Regions from separate parts of the Homo sapiens genome. Here region 1 is linked to region 2. A link means that fine-mapping ties the variant in region 2 to the expression of a gene that starts in the linked region. Tissue or cell type: blood mononuclear cells. Region 2 holds a variant in brackets; the other region holds the start of a gene. All regions are shown on one strand. Distances are from middle to middle.

What was found. PIP is the estimated chance that this variant, and not a neighbour inherited with it, causes the effect.
Region 1: it holds the start of AIF1L, and the variant in region 2 is fine-mapped to the expression of AIF1L in blood mononuclear cells (TOPMed, PIP above 0.99).

What each region holds. Positions count from the first base shown.
Region 1 is chr9:131,095,399-131,098,078 of GRCh38, forward strand. It overlaps AIF1L (allograft inflammatory factor 1 like), which reads left to right and starts at 1,133. Exons shown (of 6, transcript NM_031426.4): 1 at 1,133-1,262; 2 at 1,404-1,465. The coding sequence starts at 1,232. RefSeq lists an enhancer at 1,470-1,969.
Region 2 is chr9:131,158,965-131,161,644 of GRCh38, forward strand. It overlaps NUP214 (nucleoporin 214), which reads left to right. Exons shown (of 36, transcript NM_005085.4): 18 at 419-522. Among named protein-coding and RNA genes, the nearest start is that of NUP214, 35 kb to the left of the region's middle. The variant C/T (reference allele first, on the strand shown) is at 1,371.

The DNA.
Region 1 (2,680 bases), 64 kb before region 2:
GTGGCTCACGCCTGTAATCCCAGCACTTTGGGAGGCCGAGGCAGGTGGATCACCTTAGGTCAGGAGTTCGAGACAAACCTTGCCAACATGATGAAACCCCGTCTCTACTAAAAATACAAACATTAGCTGGGCGTGGTGGTGTGTGCCTGTAGTCCCGGCTACTTGGGAGGCTGAGGCAGGAGAATCACTTGAACCCGGAGGCGAAGGTTGCAGTGAGCCGAGATCAAGCCGCTGCACTCCAGCTCTGGGCAACAGAGCAAGACTCTGCCTCGAAAAAAATAAATAAATAAGAAAGATGATCTCAGGGTCCCTACCCTAGGAGTCAGATGCACGGTGGGGCCATTCCTAGCGCTGCCTGCCCTGGACAGCGCCTGTCTATGCCTGTGGCCCAGCATCATTATGAGGAGTGCTCCCTTGACTCTGGCTGTCCTGATTTGGACACTAGACTTCATGGTCACCCTGGCCACAGGTACCCTATCCTGCATCCTGAGCTCCGCTCTTCCTGGAGTCATGGGCTGGTCTTTCCTCCTGGTGGCCTTGCGCCCCAGCTCCAGCTTCCTGACTTTTCTCTTCTGGAAATGGGAATGCCAAGTCCTATTTCATGGAGTTTTGAGAATGAAATGACTGGTGTACGGTGCAAAGTGCCTGTGAGTGCCCAAGAAATCTCTTTTATTAACAAGACACGAATTCATTCCAATTGATTTGACGGGCCACTGTTGTCACAGCAGCCGCACTGCCCCAAAGGCAGCAGTGATGTTTGAGCGCCGACTCCCCGACGGCACTTGGTCCTCACAACCACCCCATGGAGTTCATGCTAAGATCCTCGCATTTCATTTGTGTGGCAGGGACTTGCTGAGGTCCGGGGAGGGGCAGAGAGGAGGGGTGCGGCCGCCCCGCGCTTTGCACTTTCCGCGTCCTCCAGCAGAGGGGTCGGCCGGCGGGCTCAGCGTCCCGCATAATAGCCGCTTTGAAGCCCGCGGAGCGGGTGGCGGGAGGGGAGGGGAGAGGCGGGAGGGGAGGGGAGAGGCGGGAGGGGAGGGGCGAGGCGGGAGGGAGGGAGGGAGGGGCCGGCAGCGGAGGGAGGGGTGTGTCGGCCGCCCGCGCCGTTCCTCCGCCCCTCGGTCCCGCGGCCACACGCAGCTAGCCGGAGCCCGGACCAGGCGCCTGTGCCTCCTCCTCGTCCCTCGCCGCGTCCGCGAAGCCTGGAGCCGGCGGGAGCCCCGCGCTCGCCATGTCGGGCGAGCTCAGCAACAGGTTCCAAGGTAGGCGCCGCCGTCCCCGAGCAGCCACCTGTGCGCGCCGGGCGGACCGCGGGGTCCACCGCGCGCGGGAAGCGGGCGGGGACGGGGGCGCGTGGCCCGAAGAGGACCCCGCTTCCCAGGCCGCCTCTTTGTCTCCTCCAGGAGGGAAGGCGTTCGGCTTGCTCAAAGCCCGGCAGGAGAGGAGGCTGGCCGAGATCAACCGGGTAAGCCCCGCGCCCAGGGCAGCACGCGAGTCCCGAGCCGCGCGCTGCGCGGGTGCCACCTCTCCTTCCGCGAGGCCGTGCCCGCCTCCAGATCTACCCTCTTCCTTCCCTTCCCCTGGGCTTCCCTCAGGTGCCTCCCTCCGCCCCCAGCCCCGTCGCCTCCGACTCCAGGTAGGTCCGCCTCCGCCTCCCGCCTCCGGTCTCGGGTTGCAAGTTGTTACTCTTGCAACTGGGGACTGGGGAGGTGGGGCCGGGTCAGGAGCTCGGATGCCAGCCGGCTCGTGGCTCCCCGCAAGCCCGCTTGGGAGCAGCCCAAGGATTTGGCGCGGGAAGGGCCCTAGGCCAGTGATCTCTCCAGCTCAGAACACAGGCTCCGGGTCATTTGCTGGTCTGTCGCCCAGGCTGGAGTTCGGTGGCCCAATCTCAGCTCATTGCAGCCTCCACCTTTGGGATTCAAACGGTCCTCCCTCCTCATCCTCCCGAGTAGCTGGGACTACAGGCATGTGCCCCCACGCCTGGCCTTAGCTATTGTTGTTATAAGGGATTCAAAAGTACAAATAGAAGACTCTGATGGGCGTAGAGATCCTGGCACTTCCCCGTGGTCTCCAGCCTCCCGCCTCCCTCAAACACACCACTCCTCTTCACTCCAACTTTCAGGAAAGATTGCCTTAAGGGATTCAATGCTTTTCTTGCTGGTCCTGGTGGATTTCTCAAAAGAAATCTTTCCTGTTGTTGCCAGGCATCCAGTGAGAGCTCCATAAATTTACATAGATTCTAGAAGATAAGGAAAGATATCAGGACCTGTCTGGGTTGGCCAAAGCTCAAAGGCAGCACAGCCAGTGGCTTTAAAGTTCTGCAAGACCTGGGCTCAGATCTGGCCTCCACTGTGTGCCAGCTCTGTGGTCCTCAGCAAAGGGCCTCTCATCTCCAAGCAGGGCATTGTGCAGGCTCAGAGAGGGAAGGCCCGTGGCCTGCATGGCCCAGCACCCAGCATTCAGGAAGCACTCACAGAACTAGCATTATTTCCTGAGGTGGATGTCTCCCAGTTTCCTTCTTAACTGGTGGCAGAGGCACGCCCGCTGAAACAAGGCTTGGCATTCCCCCTGCAGGCTCCTCTGGTCCCCTGGACACCCAGGGTCTAAGCCCAGCTGACAGTCTGGAAGTGGGCCGCTGGTGAGGTCAGCAGAGCCCGAGAAGGCTGTGGGAGGCGGGTCC
Region 2 (2,680 bases):
TTGAGCTCCTGACCTCAAGTGATCTGCTTGCCTCAGCCTCCCAAAGTGAGGAGCCACCACTCCTGGCCAATTTTGTTTTTCATTTTAATTATAAAGTTTTTTTATGTAACTTTTTTATTTGTATACATTATTAGAGACAGAGTCTTGCTGTGTTGCCCAGGCTGATCTTTAACTCCTGGCTTCAAGCAGTCCTCCTGCCTTGGCCTCCCAGGGTGTTGGGATTATAGGCCTGAGCCACTACACCCGGCCTCATTTTAATTATATAGTTTTAAAAATCGTATTAAAACCTATTCTGTTTTCCTTGTTCATTATGGTTCTTAATATAGAAGTATTTTAGAATTCTTTTGACTGTTTTGATACATCTTCCCCCAAACTATCAGAAAAACAAGTTATTTGCCTTTTAATTTTTTTCTTATAGGAAATTCGGCGCCTTCATCAGTATGTGAAATTTGCTGTCCAAGATGTGAATGATGTTCTAGACTTGGAGTGGGATCAGCATCTGGAACAAAAGAAAAAACAAAGGTGAATGAGATCTCTCATCTGCAATGTGTTGGAATAGATATTGCTATTGCCATTTTAAAAAGGTTATTTAGGAACATATGAAAATCCCAGGCCGGGTGCGGTGGCTCACGCCTGTAATCCCAGCACTTTGGCAGGCCGAGGCGAGTGGATCACCTGAGATCGGGAGTTCGAGACCAGCCTGACCAACATGGAGAAACCCTGTCTCTACCAAAAACACAAAATTAGCCGGGCATGGTGGCACATGCCTATAATCCCAGCTACTATGGAGGCTGAGGCAGGAGAATCGCTTGAACCCAGGAGGCGGAGGTTGCAGTGAGCTGAGATCGTGCCACTGCCCTCCAGCCTGGGCAACAAGAGCGAAATTCCCATCTCAAAAAAAAAAAAACAAGAAAGAGAAAATCTCTACAAAACGTTCATTCTTTTTAACAGTCATTCTACTTGAAATATTTTTCTATAGAAACAACAAATGATACTCAGTAATTTACATAAAATAATTTATATTGCAGTATAATTTATGATAGTGAAAAATTGGATTCAGCCTAATTATCTAAAGGTACAGGAGTGGCTAAATAAATATGGTCGCTTTTTTTCTTAACTACAGAATACCCTGTAACCATTGACTAGCATGTTCTCCAATAAATTATTTAATATATTGAATACATATTCTATGTTCTACAAAATGTATGAATATATAACTATTTCGCTATAATTATTAGATGTAATATAAAAATTTAATAAGTAAAAAGACAAAAGCATATTGGCTAATAAGAATGTGGAGGTACAAAAGTAAATAGATGTAACAAAATATTCGTAGTTATATCTGCAAAACGGGATTAAGGAGAATTTTC[C/T]GTAATACTCTTCTGTATATTTCAAATTTTCTTTTTTAGAAAACATTTGTAATTAGTGTGGATAATTAAAAAGATGAGAGAAATGATGGCAAAGTAATGGGAAAACCTTTTAGCATAGTTTTTTATCCCTAGATATTTGGTTTTAAGCCACATATTTTCCACAAGGAGTAGAATGTCATGCACCATGAGAGCATGAAGTGCCCATTAGAAATTTGAAAAATGAATCAGCCATGAAATGTTAGATTTCTGAAACACCTACACTTGATTAATGATTAGCTAGCCCTGTATGAAAACAAACCAAGAAATGGTCTATTTGATGTACTTTTCAGTGGGACAACCTGGGTGTGATATCAGGGACAGGACTATAATATGCTTATAATTTAGTAAGCACAATTCAATAAATTACATTGTGTTATGTGGAGAAAGGCTAAAAATCCCAACTGGAGGACCCTCAGCTTGCAGCATAGATAGGTATAGGGAGATAGAAGTGAGAAGCTCTCCTCCGCCACTATCTAAGGGGAGAATTCTGTGGCCTGTGGACTGGAGCACTTGTCTCCATGGGCAGTGGGGCCCCATTAGAGAACTAGCTCACACACCTGGTTCTGATTCATGTTTAACCATATGGTTTGCTTTCCCACAAGGGAAACAATGGTCTAACCTTACAGTGGGTACATTCTGCTCTGCTCAATGGTTGTATTTCTTTTTGGTAATTAACAAGTTAGCCTTGTAAGAAAGTGCATGATGCTTAAAGAGAAGCCAAGCTTTTTTTTCCTTTGTAACAATTCTGTGGATTTACTACTTATGCTTTTCTGAGTTCTCTTTCTGCAGAGTTCAAATTCTTAAATCTGTACAATTTTCTATTTTGATAGCACTTCTCTGTTTCAGGGCCATCCCTGAATATTACCTTGAACCCTATTGAAATGCCTTTTTTTTTTTTTTTTGAGACTAAGTCTCGCTGTGTCACCCATATTGGAGTGCAGTGGCGCGATCTCGGCTCACTGCAACCTCCGCCTCCGGGGTTCAGGCGATTCTCCTGCCTCAGCCTCCTTGAGTAGCTGGGATTACAGGTGCGTGCCACCACACCTGGCTAATTTTTGTATTTTTAGTAGAGATGGGGTTTCACCATGTTGGTTAGGCTGGTCTCCAACTCCTGACCTCGTGATCCACCCACCTCGCCCTCCCAGAGTGCTGGGATTACAGGCGTGAGCCACCGCGCCTGGCCTGAAATGCCTTTTAAAAATTATATGTTGAACTACCTTGTTACCAGAGGCAGTCATTCAAGTCAGCCCTGAACTCAAAGAGGTAATGGG